Regions from separate parts of the Homo sapiens genome. Here regions 1 and 3 are each reported to be linked to region 2. The links are microRNA targets in miRTarBase. Many come from high-throughput screens and were not tested one by one. Region 2 holds a microRNA gene; each other region holds the end of a gene's coding sequence.
The links. The annotated mature microRNA hsa-miR-339-5p reads UCCCUGUCCUCCAGGAGCUCACG and lies in region 2 at 2,592-2,614, shown strand. An mRNA with a match to its seed (bases 2 to 7 or 8) in the 3' UTR can be bound and repressed. Matches are read on the target gene's strand: a 7mer-m8 pairs with bases 2 to 8, a 7mer-A1 pairs with bases 2 to 7 and ends in A, and an 8mer does both.

Region 1: the mRNA of ZBTB8A is a reported target of hsa-miR-339-5p. Seed matches in the 3' UTR shown: 7mer-A1 at 5,271-5,277 and 7mer-m8 at 2,802-2,808.
Region 3: the mRNA of RNPEPL1 is a reported target of hsa-miR-339-5p. Seed matches in the 3' UTR shown: 7mer-A1 at 1,648-1,654 and 7mer-A1 at 1,712-1,718.

The regions. Positions count from the first base shown.
Region 1 is chr1:32,598,950-32,606,123 of GRCh38, reverse strand. ZBTB8A (zinc finger and BTB domain containing 8A) reads right to left here. Exons shown (of 5, transcript NM_001040441.3): 5 at 183-6,037. The coding sequence ends at 5,705. Among named protein-coding and RNA genes, the nearest start is that of ZBTB8OS, 48 kb to the left of the region's middle.
Region 2 is chr7:1,018,412-1,025,603 of GRCh38, reverse strand. MIR339 (microRNA 339) reads left to right here and starts at 2,578; the gene lies at 2,578-2,671. All of the region lies in intron 2 of CHLSN (cholesin), which reads left to right. RefSeq lists an enhancer at 1,910-2,467.
Region 3 is chr2:240,576,782-240,583,973 of GRCh38, forward strand. RNPEPL1 (arginyl aminopeptidase like 1) reads left to right here. Exons shown (of 11, transcript NM_018226.6): 10 at 67-209; 11 at 818-4,591. The coding sequence ends at 1,111. It overlaps CAPN10-DT (CAPN10 divergent transcript), which reads right to left. Exons shown (of 1, transcript NR_103792.1): 1 at 5,969-7,192. Among named protein-coding and RNA genes, the nearest start is that of CAPN10-DT, 5.9 kb to the right of the region's middle. RefSeq lists enhancers at 2,431-2,725, 3,223-3,342.

The DNA.
Region 1 (7,174 bases), not on the chromosome of region 2:
CACCCTCGGCAGGCATGAGATCCAGGCTGGTACCACCAGTGGACCACAGCCTGCCAGTCCACATGGGTGGAATGAGCCCAGCAGGCACAAGCAAAACCCAAGCAGAGGAGCCACCGGCCAAGAGGTTTCTGGCTGGTGGCAAAGCAACACCCTAAGGATCCTGTGACATAACTAAAGTCACATCCTTTACATAACATTTATTCCATATAGAATGTATCCACATACAATGACGTCAGCTTTAAAACAATCCACTGTTACTTATATAAAATCATCTATAAAATAGAGTGATACACAACACACCTCAGTGAATTAGGCTGATGGTCTAGGATTCAGAAAATGTGATCATTATATTTCCTATTTTTTGCTACCATTTCACTGGGTTGTCTTAGGTTCTTTTTTTTTTTTTTTTTTTTTTTTTTGAGGTGGAGTCTCGCTCTGTCACCCAGCCTGGAGTGCAGTAGCGTGATCTTGGCTCACTGCAACCTCCGCCTCCTGAGTTCAAGCAATTCTCCTGTCTCAGCCCCCAGAGTAGCTGGGATTACAGGTGCCCACCACCATGCCTGGCTAATTTTTGTATTTTTAGTAGAGAAGGGGTTTCACTATATTGCCCCAGGCTGGTCTCCAACTCTTGACCTAAAGTGATCCACCCGCCTTGGCCTCCCAAAGTGCTGGGATTACAGGTGTGAGCCACCACGCCTGACCCTGAGGTTTTTTTACTGTTCTGTGCCTCAATTTATTTACCGTTCATGTGGGATAACTGTCCTATTTCATATATATGTAAAGAATAACAAAAATTATTAAACACTTTGCAAATATAAAATGCTATATAAATGATAAATAGTAATACTGATACACTTATATAAAATAACAAAACTTTCTGGTTTATAATCTAAAGTTTGGTCCTCCTGTACCTATTATTCTATTATTATCACCCTTCCCAGTTAAACACATCTTTTTTTTTTTTTTTTTTTTTTTTGATGGAGTCTCGCTCTGTCACCCAGGCTGGAGTGCAGTGGTGCGATCTCGGCCACTGCAACCTCCACCTCCCGGGTTCAAGCGATTCTCCTGCCTCAGCCTCCCGAGTACCTGGGATTACAGGCACCCACCATCATGCCCAGCTATTTTTTGTATTTTTACTAGAGACGGGGTTTCACCATGTTGGCCAGGATGGTCTCGAACACCTGGCCTTAAGTGATCCGCCCGCCTCGGCCTCCCAAAGTGCTAGGATTACAGGCATGAGCCACCGTGCCCGGCCAGTTAAACACACCTTATCCTACACTGCTTTTAGTGATTTTCCATACTTATTAATTTTAGGACTAAAAAAAATTTTAAAAACCAATATGAGTGGAAATTTCAATATATCTTGGCATGACTTGGCAAAATAACTTTAATGAATTGAGTTCTGAGCTCATAAATAATTGAAGCACCAAACTTCTTTCATCCATTAGGCAGTACTTAGCCGTACAGAAAACAGTAACTATGCTTATTTTGATTGCATTACTGAAAATATAATATTGAAACATTTGTTCCTAAATTTTAAAAAGTCTTAAGATCTGATACCCATAGAAGGAACATCATGTGCTAAGGATGTGATTTGCTTCACTAAGAGACCATATGGTTACCTGCTTATAAGCACCGTGAGTAACAGGAGTAACGAAATGAGGCTGCAAGGCTCAAAGGGAATTCAGGAAGTTGTCTAATTCCATGGTTTTCAACATTGTGCACCTGAGTTCTGCAGAGGTGTCTGGGGAAAGGTTTGTGGGGGACTTTAACCACAGCAGCTCTGATTTTAGAGTTTATCCCTTAAATTTGAGCATCTTTAGGAAACAATTCATTTGAAGAGTTTCTCGGGTTAAATTATTTTAAACTGCAGGTCTAGTCCATTTTGTTTCTCCCAGACACTAGGCATGACTGCAGTGGTGCTTTCTTTTTGTAATGCTTCATCCTATACCCAGACACTCTTGAGGGTAATGGAGTTAGAAGGGCATTCAGAAGCTGATAAATGGCATTCCTGCAAGAGCAAACTTTGGTCTAACCAAGTCTTGATATTAAAAAAAAAATCCTTGGCATAAATAAAGCTTATTTAAACAGATTATACCCCTATGTAACATTTGCCCACATGTAAAAACCAAAGAATTCAATTTTCTCAATCATCAATAGACAGTTTCACTCTAGAAAATAACTGGTCTCTAACGTCTTAGATATATATGCTATAACTGGAGTCATTATTTACAACTTACAAACATGTCTTAAATGTTCTTCTATGATGTTAAAATGATACAACAGATTCTTTGTCTAGTTTGGTGAACTTGATCATTTTGTGGGGATAGTTTGATGCTCGTTATAAACAATTATGAGAAAGCATTATTTCTGAAAAGGCAATTACAAGTGCTGGTGGCACTGTGTTCAGTGAATGTTGGATATTCATGCTGATGTATGTAAAGTTTGCATGCAGAAGATAATAGCATAAAAGGACATTTAGATCATAGACTAAAGTGCATTAGAGTACACACATGCAAGCACTACTTCATTTATAGGAAAAAAGTTCAAATCAGCCATTTTTCCTACTGGCTCCAACAACTAAAAAATCAGGTTTTAATTTCAAAAGGTGTCAGTATTAATTGGGTAAGACTAGAGAATGACAAGCGTTTCCTTCCTCATTCAGATACACTTTAATTGTTAAGAATCCTGATTTAGGCCGGGCGTGCTGGCTCACGCCTGTAATCCCAGCACTTTGGGAGGCTGAGGCGGGCAGATCACGAGGTCAGGAGTTCGAGACCAGCCTGGCCAACATAGCGAAACCCTGTCTCTACTAAAAATACAAAAATTAGCCAGGCATGGTGGCACATGCCTGTAGTCCCGGCTACTCAGGAGGCTGAGGCAGGAGAATCGCTTGAACCCGGGAGGCAGAGGTTGTGGTGAGCGAGATCACGCCACTGCACTCCAGCTTGGACAACAGAGCGAGAGTCCATCTCAAAAAAACCAGAATCCTGATTTAGGAACAGCCATGTTGGGAGAACAGAGAACTCAATGCACATCATCCAGTCTTGAAGCAACTGCAAATGTGCCATCAGGGGAATCTTGAAAAAGTCTCAATTAAGTACCATGAAACAAGTGGTTATTCATCTATTTTTAAATTTTTTAAAAGAAAGTAACCAATTTAGCCTAGAAATTGGTATCAAGGACAATAATTAATGAAAGAACAAGAGAAAATAGTAACATAAAAAGGATAATTTTGAGGTATGTCATGGCATTTAAAAATACAGTAAAATTGGCTGGGCGCAGTGGCTCACGCCTGTAATCCCAGCACTTTGGGAGGCCGAGGGGGGCGGATCACGAGATCAGGAGATTGAGACCATCCTGGCTAACACGGTGAAACCCCATCTCTATTAAAAATACAAAAAATTAGCTGGGAGTGGTGGTGGGCGCCTGTAAGTCCCAGCTACTCGGGAGGCTGAGGCAGGAGAATGGCGAGAACCCGGGAGGTGGAGCTTGCAGTGAGCTGAGATTGCACCACTGCACTCCAGCCTGGGCGACAGAGCGAGACTCCGTCTCGAAAAAAAAACAAAAACAAAAAAGAAAACAGTAAAATAGATGGAGCCTCTCCATATACAGTGAAATTCTATCAAGCTTCACTGTGATAACTTGCAGAAGAGACCTTTATGAAGCTCAGTTCTTTACTTCGGATATTTAGATTTTACCTTTAGAACTGAAACAATGCTTCTCTAATTTAGCTGTAATTTTGGAATGTTTCATAATTTATGCAGGGGAGAAGTTTTTTTTTTTTTTTTTTTTGAGACGGAGTTTCGCTCTTGTTGCCCAGGCTGGAGTGCAATGGCGCAACCTCAGCCCACCGCAGCCTCTGCCTCCTGGGTTCAAGCTATCCTCCTGCCTCAGCCTTCTGAGTAGCTGGGATTACAGGCATGCACCACCACGCCCGGCTAATTTTGTATTTTTAGTAGAGACGGGGTTTCTCCATGTTGGTCAGGCTGGTCTCAAACTCCCGACCTCGGTGATCCACCTGCCTCAGCCTCCCAAAGTGCTGGGATTACAGGCGTGAGCCACTGGGCCCAGCCCAAAGGGGAGAAGTTTAAACTTTGTATACTAGGAGAAAAGTTTGTTTTGAAAATATTATATAAACAAGAGAAGCAAAAATGTTCAACATATTTAAGTGAATAATTTGTTCAAATAGTTTTATACTTTAAATTTACATATAAATAACGTGACATAAAAACATACCAATAGGTACTGTAGGGACATTACTTAGCATTATTTGAAAATCTCTAGATCAAGATATTGTATGTTGTTGAAAATGATTCAATTCCTCCTTTCATACTTTCTAATTCTGATTGGCTTATTTTTATAATGACTGCCAACTGGTGAGGTTTGACTTCTATTCTTTGCCATTTCAGGAGACATACAGGGAGAGAAGGCTGAAAGAGGATTGTTTAAAATCAGATCCTGTCCAATCATCAGTTTTCTCTCTCAGACTTTCTGACCTTAATTTCCTCATTTGTAAATCGGAGATAGTATCCACCTCACTGAGAAAATACATGAGAGAGTACTTTATAAATAATATAGCACTACATAAACGTTAGAAATCACTCACATATGGTAAGAACCTCCTAGTTTGTTTTCCTTTTTTTTTTGAGACGGAGTTTCGCTCTTGTTGCCCAGGCTGGAGTGCAATGGTGTGATCTCGGCTCACTGCAACTTCTGCCTTCCAGGTTCAATCGATTCTCCTGCCTCAGCCTCCCGAGTAGCTGGGATTATAGGCACCCGCCACCATGCCCGGCTAATTTTGTATTTTTTAGTAGAGACGAGGTTTCACCATGTTGGCCAGGCTGGTTTCAAACTCCTGACCTTGTGATCCGCCTGCCTCGGCCTCCCAAAGTATTGGGATTATAGGCATGAGCCACAGCGCCCAGCCTGCTTTTCTTTAGAGAGATGGACAACCATATTGACAGATTGTCTTCACAAACTACCTTGACTTTTAGGCAACATTAGTTTCCTGCTTTAAGAAAATATCTGTATATAATCTTTGGCCAGCCTCTACTTTTTTTTTTTTTTAACAATACTGAGAGTAATTTTTAAGCTAATGATAAAAATTTCAAATATGAATGATTTCAAACACTTTAGTCTTCTTCCATAATCCTTAAACGTTCAGGATATCAGAGTAATGACAGGTTGTTTCAGATCTCAAATTAATAGAAAGACTAATTTGTTTAGTAAGGTGGGTTGCCAGATCCTTAAATGTGCTCTTAACTGGTTCCCTGTGAAATTAAACATTGGTAGTTATGTGTTTTTGAAACACCTTGAAATTGTCTTACATAAAGTTTGGTTGTGGTGAATTTATTTAAAGTATTTTCTTTGAAAAAAGTTTGCTAAGTAGATCCTCCAATATTAAAAGAAAAAGGTATCTCTGGAATAAAGTAAGAGGATTGTAATGAAAGTAAGAGGATAATTGTTCATCCATCAAGCCAACTCAAGCTAGTTCTTTCTTTCCAGTGCAGCAACACATTTTAGGGCAACAAAGTTCAGAATGGATACAATGGCCTGTTCAGAAAGCATGCAAGTTATATCAGATCATTTCTTTAAAGTCAGTGTGATAAATTTGTTAACTAGACTCCGACCATAGAAAGAGAGAGATACAGGAAGTCAATGTAAATTGCAGACATGCCAGCTCTGTTGGTTCACATTACAGCTACCTAATGTTGGGCTTAATTTCTTTTTCTTCTTCTTCTTCACTATCATCAACCTGTTGGATGACCAGATCAGCAGACCCATCTTCTACAATCTCCACATAGGATCTATTCTCATCTTCACTCAAGTGCCATCTGGAATCCTTATCTCCATCTGATGGGGACATAAGATGTTGTTCAGCTTCCAAGTCAATGGGGAGGCTGTCTATGCCAAATTCTGCAAGACACTCATTACACAGTCTGTAGCGCCTGGTTCCCTCCTGTACCACTTGCCCTGTTAGATCTGTCACATGACGTTTACATTTTCTGCAGATGAGTTTACATGCCTGGTGAATCTGTGTAGAGATTTAAATAGTGATAAAAGTGATTTTTCAAAAGCAGGACAGTTTGATATTTTAGGTACCAGTTCATAAACTTAAGATGTTCAAAGCCATGCATTAAACTCAAATTAACATCTATTATTTAGAGAAAGATCAAGGGTTTTAGTGGTGAATTGATGTCACAGAAATATTAAACATCAGCTTTCTCTAAATAGTGGCTATCATGTTTTTTATTATTAATATGACATAATAATTTCACCTATCCCTTAATCCAATAGCATTTGGTATCTGAGGTAACTTCCTATGATAATAATAATTGCAAACACTATGTGCCATGTACTTATTTAATTATTTTTATTATTTATTTATTTATTTATTTATTTTTGAGACAGAGTCTCACTCTGTTGCCCAGGCTGGAGTGCAATAGTGCAATCTCGGCTCACTGCAACCTCCGCCTCCGGGGTTCATGCAATTCTCCTGCCTCAGCCTCCTGAGTAGCTGGTATTACAGGCACGTGCCACCACGCCCAGCTAATTTTTGTATTTTTAGTAGAGATGGGGTTTCACCATGTTGGTCAGGCTGGTCTCAAACTCCTGACCTCGTCATCTGTCTGCCTCGGCCGCCCAAAGTGCTGGGATTATAGGTGTGAGGCACCGCGCCCAGCATACTTTTTATTTTTAAAATAGGGTCTCGCTCTGTCACCCAGGCTACGGTGTAGTGGTGACCATGGCTCACTGCAGCCTCAGCCTCCCAGGCTCAAGCAATCCTCCCATCCCAACCTACCGAGGAGCTGGGACTACAGGTGCATGCCACCACACCTGGCTAATTAAAAAAAAATTTTTTATAGAGAAAGGGTCTCACTATGTTTTCCAGGCTGAACATATCTTAATTTGAGGTGGGGGCGGGGGGTGCAATCTCTCTTGTTTTGTGTATTAATTTTTTGTTATTTTACTAGAGAAAGAAAAATATTGCATAAATTTAAATTTATTAATATTTTAGATAGAAGGAGAACTTGCCATTTTTATTAATAAAAGATCTGGTGGAAAGAGGACCACAGGGATTGGAAGGGTTGGGGTTCTAGTTATTTACTATCTTCTTGGAGCAAGTAATTTAAAACATTATATAAACCTGCTTTAGGGTGACAGTTAAAAT
Region 2 (7,192 bases):
CAGAATACACGGAGCTGTGTCCACAGGCCTCAGCGGCTGTGAGCCCCTCGCCTACACTGGGGGGTCCTCAGCTGACACCTGAGCCAGTGTCCTGTGCCCCAGTGGTGCCAGGGCAGAGTCCCCCTCCCTGACCTGACTTGTGCACCTCGTCACCCACCGCCAGCAGTGTCCCCCCACAACAGGCTTGCTCAGTACAGCACCCAACCCAAGTCCCCAGCACCCACACCCCAGTGAGTTTCCTGTGCCCTATAGGCTCAGCTGCTTCTCGTCCTCCCCCCACTTGGGATCCTTGGAACAGGGAGTGGTTCTTATTTAGGTCCCTGAGGTACCAAGCACAGGCTTTGCTCTTAGCAGCCGCCACTCCAGTGATGAAGCCGTTAGCAGACTGGCCTCTGCAGAGCTCTGCGGGGAGGTGCCTGGCTTCTCCGGCCTCCACCCTGGCCCAGAGCTGCCTCCTGAGCAGCGGATCCCAACCTGCCTGCCCCTGGGGCTGGGTCTCCAGCAGTCAGGACTGAGTTGTTGCTAGCTGCTGACAGGTGTGGGGCGAAGGGGGCGCATTTGCCGCATGTCCCCATTGGCAGCATCTCCACGCCTTCCCTTGTGACACCTCCAACCAGAATAGAGCAGGTATGTGGGAGCCCGCACCTGCTCCCCCAGCGCCCCGGGGTCGTCTTCTGCCTGCTCCTTCTGTCCTCCACACTGAAGAGTGTGCTCCAGCTGGGGATGGGCATGTGTGACGCTGGGGAATGGATACCTGTGAAATGGTGGAGTGTGCATCAAGTCTAAATAGCCGCTCGCAGGATCTGGGGGCTTTTTGTTTTCAGAAACCTGATCTGATCTTTATAAAAAGTGCTCCCCCACTCAGTCAGCCTGGGTGTCCCTCCCGTCCAGGCCAGCAGCGCTGTCTGGCTCGGCAAGGAGGGGCTGAAACTGGAGAGCCCCTGGGAAGGCTCTTGTGGGCCAGGTGGCAGCGGGGAGGGTGGCTCTTGTTCCCCGCCCTCATCCTAGCGTTCAGCAGACTGCCCCACACCACAGGTTTCCATTTTCACCCTTGGGTTAAGAGAAAAGCAGAAATAAAAAGTTTCTAATGTTGCTTGCGAAATTCAGCACTGGCCACCAAAGGCACCTGGGGCTTCTGCGTCTCTCTTGTCCCCTGGGGCTCCTGCGTCTCTCCTGTCCCATGGGTCCGTTTCTTGCTGTTTATTGCAACCCGCCTACATCGTTGGTGTGTGCAGCTGAACTCAGGCTGTTTAGGAAGCCCACGGGCAGGGCTCTGTGGGGCCCATTCCTGGTCCCACGTCTCTGGCAAGGGCTCCTCTTGAGCTGAGGCTTCTGAGCTCCTGCAGGCGGGAGTAGGGAGGCAGGTCCCACTGTCAGCCAAGCTGCAGGGTTTTTAGGAAGAAAGTGGGGGCTGTGCACCGTGGGCTCACACCTATAATCCCAGCACTTTGAGGCTGGCCGGAAGGATCGCTGTGGCCCAGGAGTTTGAAAACTCATGCCTATAATCCCAGCACTTTGGGAGGCCGGCAAGGAGGATCACTTTAGCTCAGGAGTGTGAGAGCAGCCTTGGTCCTATCTCTATAAAAAATTTAAAAACTGGCCAGGCATGGTGGCACATGCCTATAGTCCTGGTTGCTTGGGAGGCTGAGGTGGGAGGATTGCTTGAGCCCAGGAGGTCGAGGCTGCAGTAAACTGTGATGGTGCCGCTGCAGTCCAGCCTGGGCCACAGAGCAAGACCGTGTATCAAAAGGAAAGGGCTGCTGTGGAAGGGCCTCCAGTCCCCTGGCCTGGGCTGCAGGGGCCGCTGCTCCAGCCCTGCCTTCTACATGTGCCGAGATGTGAGCAGTCACCCCTGGAGATCCTCACCCCTTCTCTGTAGAACGAGGAGTTGGGCTGCCAGGGATTGGGGTCTGGGCGCGTTGCTGGTGTGTGTGTGTGTGTGTGTGTGTGTGTGTGTGTGTGTGTGTGTGTGTGTGTGTTTCCTGGGAGGAGGCCCCCACAGTCTTCGTCATGTTCTCCAGGGCCCAGTGGGAAGGAGTTGGAAGTTGGATGGAGAGAAATGTGGAGTAGGGCAGGAACCTCCTTCCTAGGAAGGAGCCTGCGGGGGACCCTGCAAGGGGTCCCAGGTTCCCAGGAGGCCTCGGGTGTGCTGTCAGAGGGGCGCTGGGGCTGGGAGTCTGTCCATGTCTTCAGCCTGGGTCTCGTGAGTTCAGGGAGTTTGAACCTGGGTGGAGAATGAGCCCCTGTGCGTCTTCCCTAACCTCCAGCTGACACGAGCTTCCGCAGACCCCGCGGTGGCGGGTGTGGGCGCTCCCCGTGCCATCTGTTGGGGACACCTCACACATCACTTGCGCTCAGCCCGTGTCGCGGCTGCAGGAGCCACCAGACCTTGTAAATACTCGGATGCCCACATCTGCTCGTCTGTGTCTCCCTGTGGCTGTGCATCAGACCTCACGCGTTTAAAACGTCCTTCTGAGAAGGGGCCACAGGCAGGTGCCACCCATTGCCACGGCACCATGGCAGGAAGCGTCCCATGCTCTGCAGGGGTGGCAGGAAGCGTCCTGTGCTCCGCAGGGGCGGGGCGGCCGCTCTCCCTGTCCTCCAGGAGCTCACGTGTGCCTGCCTGTGAGCGCCTCGACGACAGAGCCGGCGCCTGCCCCAGTGTCTGCGCCGGGACCATGGAGTGGCCAGCTCGCCGCGGAGACGTCGCCGCGCTTTGTAGCAGCCCCTGGACTCGTATGCGTGGGTCTTCTGATGCAGTGTGTTTTATTCGGTATCAACATGGAAGGGGGAGAGCATGGGATGTTCCACTGGTGTCCTAGGGAGGAAGTAACTGGGGAGGGAGGACGGTTGGGGGGGATTCACCTTTAAAGAATTTGAGAGCTTGTTTATTTTGCAGAATAAGAGTAAATTAATCCCCTGTGTGTTTCTGATCATTAAGAAGACCACATCGATGCTGTTGGTTGTGGGACTGTCATTTCAGAGTCCGGATCCGAATGTGGTCCTGGCTACTCTGCGAGGGTTGCCGTGGGAGGAGGTGGTGGAGGGCACGTGGGCGTCCCGTGTTCCCTCACGACGGCCGTCACCTGCGATTGCGTTAAAATAAAAGGCTTAATTTAAAAAACTCTTGTTTCTCAGAAAAAGCAGTTTACTACTGTGAGTTAACGCCGTGGGATTCTAATAATTGAGGTGACAAATCTGATTAAGGTTTTCTTTAAATTGGAACAGAATCCGTACGGGTGCCCCATGAGAGGGCTGTGGGACGTGGGACCAGGCTCCTGACCTTGGAACCCCTGGGTGGGGTCTGAGGCGATGCAGGAGAAAGAGGAGCTCGTGGTCCAGGAGGCGCCCGTGGGTGGGGACATGCCTCCCCGCAGGCCTGCGTCTGTCCTCGTGGGACGGGGCCAGGCTTCTGGTCCTTCCCTCCTGAGCTGCCGTCACCACCGTGGCTCACGAACAGTGCAGCGGGGCTCCTGGTGGTCTGCGAGCAGACTCCGGTGGACTCAGGGTTGGTTGCCCTGTCCAGGGGGCCTCGAGTGCTCCAGGACATGGCCTGTCCGATGTGGCCCAGGCGCCACGCCTGTGGGCCGTCATCGCTGTCACCTGGGTGTGCCGAGGGACTTGGGCTTTCCTGCCACCCCCGCGGAGGATCGAACCTTGTGACCCAGGCCGAGGGAGCTGCCCTGGGTGCCCCTCAGGCTCCTGCTCCCCAGGACTCAGTTTATACCCCAAAACCCAGCCTCGCCCCGCGGAAGGGCGCGCATCCCAGTGTGTTTCCCTGTGCCAGGCACAGTTCTCGCTGGGCGGGTATTTTTGCCGCATGCTTTCTTTTAGTGCGCTGTTTGTGTATGGTTGTTGGTGAGCTGTGGTTTCTGTCTGGTGACAAGTAGGGAGGGGTTAGGGGGGTGGTGTCCTGCCTCCAGCCGACCTGCCGGGGTTCCCAGAGGGCACTGCGGTGGCAGCAAAGCCAGTCACACTGGGGCTGGCAGATTGTCCCTCTCCCATCCAACAGCATGGGGAAATGATTGATGACTGACAGCTGCTGAAGCCCTACTCCTGTGCGGTGGATGGACAGTGCTCCCTGGGGTCCCAGCTCCAACTACTGGCATCTTGTCAAAGCAGCAGCCCAGGTGGCCACCACTGCCGATCAGACTTAATGGATGAAGACAGGAAGGCTGGGCAGAGCCCTTCAGCTTCCGACTCTGGTTCAGTCACTGAAATCCGCAATATCATCTCTGTCAAGGTCAGGTCCTACTGCCACGATGAAAAGGCTTCTGGGGAAGAAGAAAGAAACCTGCCCCATGGGTGCCAGCCTGGAGGTCCACACTAGAGGTCCCTGCTGGGAGATCCTCAGCCTGGAGGTTCCCAACCTGGGGGTCCGTGCTGGGAGGTCCCCAGTCTGGAGGTCCCCAACCTGGAGGTTCTTAACCTGGTGATCCCCAACCAGAAGGTCCCTACTGGAATGTCTCCAGCCTGGAGGTTCCCAACCTGGAGTTCCCTGCTGCGAGGTCCCCAGCCTGGAGGTGCCTGCCTGAAGGTCCCCAGCCTGGAGGCCCTGCTGGGAGGTCCCCAACCTGGAGGTACCTGCCCGAAGGTCCCCAGCCTGGAGGTACCTGCCTGAAGGTCCCCAGCCTGGAGGCCCTGCTGGGAGGTCCCATCTGAAGGCTCCACCTGGTGGTGTCTTTCGTAACCCCAGTCCCCAGCTCTGCTGTATCAGGACGTTACAAACGGCCTGATTGCCCCCAAGAAAGTCGAGGGGTCCTGACCCCTGCACTCCTCCGTTTCACACAGCCTGGGGAGCCCAGAGGAGCAGGACATCCAAGGCCCAGGCCGTCTGCAGGGGTGGTCAGCAGACGGCAGTGATGGGCTGGTGTCTGCCCCTGAGATCAGAGGTGAACAGGAATGGGAGCCTCTGTTTCCTGCAGGTCCTCCCTGCTCGGGAGGTGGGTTCGGTAAGGGCTGGGTTTACTGTCATTCATTTCCTTACATCATCTTGGTCTTAGCTGTGTGAGACTAGCTGTCCCTGCAGTCTGGGAGGGGTTGGCCTGTTCCCCAACCCGCTACAGCCCCCTTGTGTGTGGTATCCGCCAGACATATCTCGATAGTGGGGGCTCCAGGTGGGGGCGCCGAGGGGCCCTTGGGTGGAGACGCAAGATGGGGCAGCGGCTGGCGAGAAGCGAACCTAGGGGGCTCCTCTCTGGGGCCCAGGAAGAGTTCTTGGAGAGGCTGTCCTGGCTCTGACAGGAGAGCGGGCCTCCCCTTTGGTGGGCGTGCTGGGCGGGGCCCCAGGCTGCAGGAGGACTGTGATGGGAGCAAGGGGTGCCCCCTCTCTCAGGGAGCCCCAGGAGGGCAGAGGCTGCAGCGCGTGTTCACAGGACGGGAGCATGAGGGAATGCACTCCGCGGCGTGGGAAGAAACAGTCGTGGGGACCAGGGCATCGCACGCGGGGCCTGCCGCATCCATGCACTGCTGGGCCTGGTGCCCGTGTTCCCGCAGAGCAGCAGACACCACCACTCCGCCGGCCCTTGGATCTCTCCTCAGTGGGAAGAGAGGCTGGGGACGGGCCGGCCACCTGCCGCCTCGCTGGACTTCTGCCCTGGGATTCCTGAGACGAGAGCCGAGCGTCCTAAGCTGCCCTCGTCCAGGTGCCCCGTGGCCTCCCTCGGGAAACGCACTGTAGCTTGGCCTCCGGGCCGCGGTCAGTGCCTGCGGGCCTCTGGGTCCAGGCTGTGGGAACTGTCCACTTCCTGGGAGGGCAGGAGTGAGAGACCTGAGTGGGTGACCCCAGGCAGCCCCAGCCCCCCACACTCCATCAGGAGAAGAGGGGTCAGGGCCACAGCCAACCAGTCTCCGCTTCCTGCTTGCTTCCCACCGCCTCTGCCCATCTGGAAGCCCTGGCTGCAGTGGGGGCCCTCCTCGTGGTGATGGGCCTGGAGGTTCTTGGCGGCCACTGGAGCTTCCTGCAGCCACTAGGCCTGCGCAGCCTCCCCTCTGCCCACAGGGCAGCCCCACGGCCACCTCCGCTCTGTGGTTTGCCTTCTTGGACTCAGGGCTTCACTGTTTTGAAAAGCCCGGGTGCTGCAGTGAGGACCCCGCTCCGCATTTCTGCCGGGAGCTGTGAGCAGCCAGGCCAGCCTCCTCACGGTGCCAGGAAGCCTCTCCTTCTGGCCCAGAGCAGCAGCTGCCCCTTCCAGCATTGACCGTGGGTGATCAACAACCTGGCATGGGGGCAGGATTTTCCCTATAGAACCATTGAACAACACGGACCTGTCAGCTCAAGGTACCTTCTGGCTTTGCAGGTGGCTAGAGATCCATGCAACCACAGGTGGGCCTGGTTGGGCCCCTCCAAACCCTCACCCTCTTCCTCCCTCCCTTTCACTCCCCCCCCCCCGTTTTTTTTTTTTTTTTTTGAGACAGAGTCTCACTCTATTGCCCAGGCTGGAGTGCAATGGCGCGATCTTGGCTTACTGCAACCTCTGCCCCCCGCGGGTTCAAGCAGTTCTGCCGCAGCCTCTCGGGTAGCTGGGATTACAGACGTGCACCACCATGCCCGGCTAATTTTTGTATTTTTAGTAGAGACGGGGTTTCACCATGTTGGCCAGGCTGGTCTCGGACTCCTGACTCAGATGATCCACCCACCTCGGCCACCACGCCCGGACCACTCCCCAGTTCTTGACAAGTCTGCAGTTCCTGCACTGTCCTAGACTATGGAACACCTGGGAGGGACAGAGAGCTTGTCCTGGGACCACCAGCTGGACGAGCCTATCACCCACCCCCGAGGTAGAAGACCTGGGGCGCAGCCCTGATCTATTGATTTTTTTTTTTGAGGGTCTCACTCTCATCCAGGCTGGGGTACAGTGGTGTGATCACAGCTCACTGCAGTCTCGAATTCCTGGGCTCAAGCCAGCCTCCCACCTTGGCCTCCCAAAGCACTCAGATTAACATGTGTGAGCCAGTGCACCTGAGCTCCACCCTGATTTACATAAAGACCACACTCTGGGCTGGACCCCACCCGCCCGCGTGCACACCTCAGCTGGAGCCCACGCCAGGTGCCTGCTCCCACTGGGCAGGAAGTGCGGACCTCCGAGAGGCACAGGCTGGGCCTGCTGGCCATGGGTGTGCCCATCACGACTCCCTCGTCATGTCTCCTCATCACATCTCCTCTCTGCTCGGGGCCAGGCTCTGAGACGCC
Region 3 (7,192 bases), not on the chromosome of region 2:
GATGGGGGCGGCCCAGGGGCTGGGGTGCAACAGCGGCCCAGCCCTGACCTGCCCCCTGCGCTGCAGAGGTGGTGATGAGCCTGTCCAAGTGCTACTCCTCCCTGCTGGACTCGATGAACGCTGAGATCCGCATCCGCTGGCTGCAGATTGTGGTCCGCAACGACTACTATCCTGACCTCCACAGGGTGCGGCGCTTCCTGGAGAGCCAGGTGCGGTCACCTGCCCAGGGGGCCAGCCTGGAACGGCCTAGCCGTGCGGACTGGGAGTCCCACCCGACTCCCTAGTCTGAGCCCTTGGGGCAGGCCAGGCACATTCTGGAGAATGGGGCGGGGAAGACGTAGGGGTCTGTTGGGAGTGGGGGCATGCACCGGGTGCAGGTACCAGAGGGCAGCCTGGACTCCACCAGTTCTTGGAGAAACTGTGGAAGGGACCAGCTGGGAGCAGGAGTTTAGGGTCCAGGCCACCACAGCCTGCTGGGCCCTGGGCCTTCAGCGTCCTGGTCTGGGCAGAGGGGACGTCCCAGCTCCTCAGAGGGAGGCCAGAGCCCTCAGGCCCGTGGGCCCTGGCTGCCCTGCTCCCTGTATGTGCTCCCTCCAGCCCAGGTTCCCTGGAGATGGGGCCTCCATGGTTGGCCTGGAAGGGCAGGGTGGAGGTGGGAGGCTAATGGTAGGCCTCCTGGCCACCGGAGTCCAGGCCACAGCCCTAATGATGAAGCTGGGAAGCCAGGGGCAGGAGGGCCGCCTGGCCGGGCTGGCAGGGTGGGCTGGCTCGAGGGGCCTGGGGAGCCCACCAGTGTGACCGAGTGCCCCTCCTGCAGATGTCACGCATGTACACCATCCCGCTGTACGAGGACCTCTGCACCGGTGCCCTCAAGTCCTTCGCGCTGGAGGTCTTCTACCAGACGCAGGGCCGGCTGCACCCCAACCTGCGCAGAGCCATCCAGCAGATCCTGTCCCAGGGCCTGGGCTCCAGCACAGAGCCCGCCTCAGAGCCCAGCACGGAGCTGGGCAAGGCTGAAGCAGACACAGACTCGGACGCACAGGCCCTGCTGCTTGGGGACGAGGCCCCCAGCAGTGCCATCTCTCTCAGGGACGTCAATGTGTCTGCCTAGCCCTGTTGGCGGGCTGACCCTCGACCTCCCAGACACCACAATTGTGCCTTCTGTGGGCCAGGCCTGCCATGACTGCGTCTCGGCTCTGGCCATGAGCTCTGCCCAGGCCCACAAGCCCCTCCCCTGGGCTCTCCCAGGCAGGGAGAATGGGGAGAGGGACCTCCTTGTGTCTGGCAGAGACCTGTGGACCTGGCCTCCCCACTCCCAGCTCTCTTGCACTGCAGGCCCTGGGGCCAGCCCGCACACACCATGCCTCCTGTCTCAACACTGACAGCTGTGCCTAGCCCCGGATGCCAGCACCTGCCAGGTGCCGCCCCGGGGCAAGGGCCCCAGCAGCCCTATGGTGACCGCCACACTGTGCCTTAATGTCTGCCGGGGGCCCAGGCTGTGCTGTCCCTGCAGCACGCCTCCTTGCAGGGATCTGAGCCACCCTCCCCGCACAGCCCTGCACCCCGCCCCTGGGGTTGGCAGCCTCAGTTGGCCCCTGGCAGAGGAACAAGGACACAGACATTCCCTCAGTGTGGGGGGCAGGGGACACAGGGAGAGGATGGTTGTCCCTGGGGAGGGCCCTCTGGCCCCAGGCAACCTTAGCCCCTCAGAACAGGGAGTCCCAGGACCCAGGGAGAGTGTGGGGACAGGACAGCCTGTCTCTTGTAGCTTCCTGGGGTGGGAGGCACAGGGGCAAAGCAATACCCCAGGGAAAGTGGGAGGTGGTGCTGGTGCTCTCTCCAGGCCCACCATGCTGGGAGAGGCGGCCAGAGCCTGGGGCCTCCAGCCTGGGACTGCTGTGATGGGGTATCACGGTGATGGTCCCATTAAACTTCCACTCTGCAAACCTGATCTCCTGCGCTCTTTCTCGCGACTCTTGTCCTCTGCATCTTCCTGGCTGTGTAGGGTGGGCTGGCCTGCCGGGACTTGGGGCCTGGAGCTGGTCAGGAGCTGGGTGTGGCCCCCTCCTCTGATACATAAGCCCGAGAGCAGGCTCCCCGAATCCTGCCCAGCCCCTTGGCTGGACCCCCTGGGCCTGAGTAGCCTCTGGATGTCACAGGAAAGCCATGTGTCACCTTCACTCTGGGCCTTCACCTGTGGCTTAAGCCAAATCCCGGCCTCAGTGGTGATCCTTTCCCAAGATGGGTACAAGGTGACAGGCATGTTTTGTTTTGGAGAACTGAGATTTCCATTTTCCCAGGCGATAGGTGTCGCTGCCCTTCACAGTCCCCAAGGATGTGGCGCCACCATCTCAGTGCCACGCACACCTGGCCAACATGCCGTGGCCCAGAAGCAGCACGTCTCTTCTCCCAACCCGCTGGCCAGGCCCAGTCACAGCCCCACTCCACACATGGCAGCCAGGAAGTGGGGAGGGCAGGAGGTGCTGGGCAAATAACCCTGATACCATCACTGTCCAGTCCCCAGTCACCAAATGTCCCACTCACCCTCCTTCCTGTTCTGGATGCCCCGCCCCTCCCCTCCCCTCCCAAGGACATATGAGTCCCCTCCAGTGGCGGTGGCAACTCTGGTCTAGGGTCTGGGGCCGTCTCTACATGTGTTGCTTCATGTACCTTCTTCACATCAGGTCTGGGGGAGGCGCCACCCCATCCAGAGACCTAGGAACTAGAAGACTGCCACTGCCCCTCACACCCAGGGATAGGATGACTGCAGTAACCCCTGTGAAAGCGGGTATGGAGGGCACCTGGCAGCCCCTGCTGCATGGCCATCTAAAGTCTTGCCAGGCAGGCACAGCTAGGGCCCCTGCCTGGGAGTGGACACCCCACTCCCCCAAGTCATGTTCTCTGTGGCCTGGGGCTCCAGCCTTGGGAGGACCCCTTTCCTGTTTCTTAACCATGCTTGATGGTGTCCTCAAAGGAGCCCTGCTCAGTGGCAGAACTGCTTTCTCAGCCTCTTCCCCGCCAAGGTTGTTTTCAAGTCCCAGCAGTCACAGACTTTCATCCTGGGCTCTTCTTTCTTTTGCAATTCAGCTCTCGAAATGACTCTGTGGTCTGCGGGTGACTCCACTCCACGTGCCTACAGCCACGCCCACAGCGCCACCTCCGGACGCTGCTGAGCTGCGCACCTGTGCCTGACACCTGGCTTTGGGAAACTCAGCAGCAGTGCCCAGCGTCATGACCCTGGGGGCAGGAGGGCATCTGGATCCAGGATGGCACCCTCACCACAATCTGTCTTGGCTCTGTGCCCGCCCGTGGGGTACACAGGAGGGCTCTTTCAGCCCTAAGTCCTTGTGTTCCTGACCTTTGTTCCTCTTCCACCCAGCTTGCAAGTGCAGAATTTTTTTTTAGCTCGTCGCTTCCCTGCAGTCCCTTGTCCAATGCAGCCTCCGGCCGATACTCAGGCCAGTGTTGTTTCCCAACCTCTCCACTAGATACGCACACTTAGCTCACGGTCTGCCTCATGAGTCATCCCAGTTGAGCTTTACCAAATGTTTTGCCCCACCTAACAGCCTGCCCACATTCCAAATCCTGGCAGGTCGCACGTTTTATTAGCACAGCACCCCTCTCCTAGCGGCCAGCTTCTCTATTAGGCCACGTTATGCTCCAGCCACACAACTATGAAGCGCAGACGTCTCACACAACAAAGCTTTCTCATGCTGCAGGCCCACCTCAGGCTGGCAGGGGAAGGGGGGATTCTCTTCAATGTGACCACTCTCGGACCCGTACCGATGAACAGAGATCTCAAATGTTTCCAGGCACCTTGCCAGGGATAAGAGAGCTGTTGAGGGGCTCACACTGGCAGTGGAAGTTCTAAGGGGCCTACAACCACAGGGGCTGCAACCCCACCATATGCACAAAAGCGGGGGCAGATGGCAAACAGCACTAATGACAACGACGGAGCTGAGGCCAGAATGTGAGAGAGATCTGCATTTTGGGGATTAGGGCCTAGTCAGGCAGGTAGGAGATGATGTTCAAAAAGGGAAAAGAAGCGTGATGAAAGACTGGTTTCTACAGAGATAGATTAGAAAGCTGAAGCCTGAAAAAACAGTGAAGGAGACCCATGCAAATTTCTAGGCCCTGGAGGTCCAAATAAGGTTTTCTAAGTCCCTCAGGCCATGACAGGTTCAGTCCAGACTTGTCTCCCAGAGTGTTTCTCTGCCATCCCTACTCTAACTGGGACTTATTGGTGGTGTTTCTCTCCTAAGGCCAGATGCTTTGCACAGAACATTAGGAAACTCCAGATGTAAAGGTAAGGCACAACTGAGAATCACCTGCCCAGGGCAGCAACACAGTGTGAAGGAAAACAGGCCACTCAACCCAAACTTACACCTGAGACAGAGGCAACAGAAAAATCAGAAAAGGACTTTAGAACACATATAATCAAAATCTCAGACCTAAAGACGACTTTTGAAATAAACCATAACATATGAAGAGGCACTTATGAAACAAGAACAGGTAGTTTATAAAAAAGAACCAGTCAGAGACCCTGGAAATTTTTTAAAAAGCAATTACTAAAATAAAAAATGAAAACTCAGTCAACAGTGCTCTGGTTTGGATGTTCCCTCCAAAATTCATGTTGAAATTTAATTGCCATTGTGATGGTATTAAGAGGTGGAACCATTAAGAAGCGATTAGGCCATGAGGGTTCTGCCTTGATGAATGCATTAATGTCATTATCAGAGTGGGTTCGTTATCATGAGCATGTGTTGTAAAAATGAATTTAGCTGTCTCTTGCTGTGTGTCCTCTTGCTCTTCCATCTTCCCCCATGGAATGGTGTGGCAAGAAGGCCTTTACCAGATGCCAGCCCCTCGCCCTTGGACTTCCCAGCCTCCAGAACTATAAGAAATACATTTATTTTCATTATAAATTACCCAGTCCGTGGTATTGTTATAGGAACAGAAAATGCACTTGGGGATATTAGGTCGTGGAGAGTAAAAAAAAAAAAAAAATAAGTTCCAGTCAATCAAGGCATCCTCATTCTCAACATTGCCTGCATTCTACCCTCCAGGGGTCCCCTCCATGGCCCTTCATCTGCCCCCACCCCGCAACTCAGCCTCATTTCTTCAGCCATTTTCTCCCCCACATCTCTCTTCCCTTCCCATCAGACCTTCACATCCTGCAAGCTAAGCCACCTCAACTAGCCATGCCCTCAGGGCTCTTACTCAAGCACCCACCAAGATGTTTTTCCTAACAAAGACTGTCCTTTTACTAAGAGGAATCTGATGTCAGCTGTTAGTCTCCGCTCCCCCCCACCCCCCATCTCTCGGAATAATCACCTGGTCAGAGAGAAGCCCAAGAGCACGGACATGCCAGCTAAAGGTGGAGCTTGGCAAGGGTGTCCACAGAGTGGCCAGGCCCAGCACAGATCCGAGGGGCTTTTAACAGGCACAGGCAGAGTGCTAAGGAGATCACTACCACCCACCCACCCATCCAGCCAGGCCCAGATAAACCTCTCCTTGTTCCAAATGAATGAGCAAACAGAAAAATTCCAGTGTGGAGGGAATACAACACCCACAATGCAGAAAATAGCCCACATCCAAAATATGCTCCCCTCAGATAACTAGTCAACTGTGCAAACTATCTGCATAATCCTCACAATAAAGTTGAAGAACACAAAACCACTTCATACAAAGAGTTAGGAAAAAAATTCCTATAAGGAGGAGCATGTACCATATTTATTCCCACTCTGTTTACTAAGCATGTATTATAATGAGAAAAAAAGCTCAATCTAAAATATTGCCAACAAAGAATCCATTCCTCACGTTGCAGTAAATGAAGCGGGCTGAGGTCAGCCTCCTTTTATGCTGGCTGCCCCAACTCTAAGGAGTTGATGCGTCCTACTGTTAACAGCGGAGGATGTCCAGGTTCTTGGCGTCTTAAATAAAGAATTGGACAAAACACACACAGAGAGCAAAGAAGGAATGAAGGGATTTATTGAAAATGAAAGTACACTCCACAGTGTGGGGGTGAGCCTGAGCATAGGAGCACAAAAGCCCTGTTACAGAACTTCAGAGAGTTTAAATACCCTCTAGGTGATTCCATTGGTTACTTGGGGCACACGTTATGTAGATGGAGAGCCTGTTACAGAACTTCTGAGAGTTTAAACACCCTCTAGGTGATTCCATTGGTTACTTGGGGCACACGTTATGCAGATGGAGAGGATGAAGTTACAAAGTCATTTGCTTGGCCTATGTCCTATGGAGAAGGTATTTCCTATCATAACTGAAGTGTGAATCAGCCTATGTTCCCTGCACTCAGACCCTATTTTCCTGCCTCCTACCTACAGCTGTGTGGTCCTGAGCTGTCACCTCTTCCCTTTGAAGCTCAGGTTCCTCATCGGTAAAATGAGGCAGAAATACTCACTGCTGAGATGTGTGGGGATCGCACAAACTCAGTGTCTCAACATGTTGTACGTGTGTTTTGGCCCTCTGAGCCCTTGAGGGCTGCCCCAGGTGGAACCCTCTTCACTTTTCTTGGAGAACTGACCATGGGTTGCAGCAAAGCCTAAAATGGTTCCTGTTTCAGCCCTGCCTGGGAAGATTCAGCTGGAACCTTTAGGCTAGGAAAAGGTTCGAGAAGGACCCTACCCCCACTGTGCCCGACCTGAGACAAATCCACAGAAAAGCAATCCTTGCTAACTCTGGGCAGTATGTGGACAAGATACTAATTTTTAATCTCTGCATCTCCATGAGAATGCAAGGACCAGCACAGTGAAGTGCCCAATGATTGCCCCCTGAACAAACGGAGATGTCAAGTTCAGAAAAAATCCTGGCTGAGGAAGACAGGGAACATTCCCTTGAAAAACAAGGGCAGTCATCCAGACAGAGCAAGAGGAGTGGCAGGATAAGAGGAGGCAGACAGGGTTGATTCCACAGGGCTCCTCCTCAACACCCATGAACCTGAGAAGTGGTCAGATGCGTTTCAGGCCACTGGCCAGCAGTGGGGTCATGGCGGGAACTAGTCCCACCTGAAGGACTCTCATCTCCCTACAATCCCCAAACGCTGAGGCATGGGGATGCTCTTCCCTCCTTGAAGTGAGGGCCCCGAGGCTCTCATACTTTAATTACAGTACTTCAGACCAAGAGCCTGCAGTTGAGGAGGCCAGGGTCATGAATCAGCTGCCCCCCAAACTCC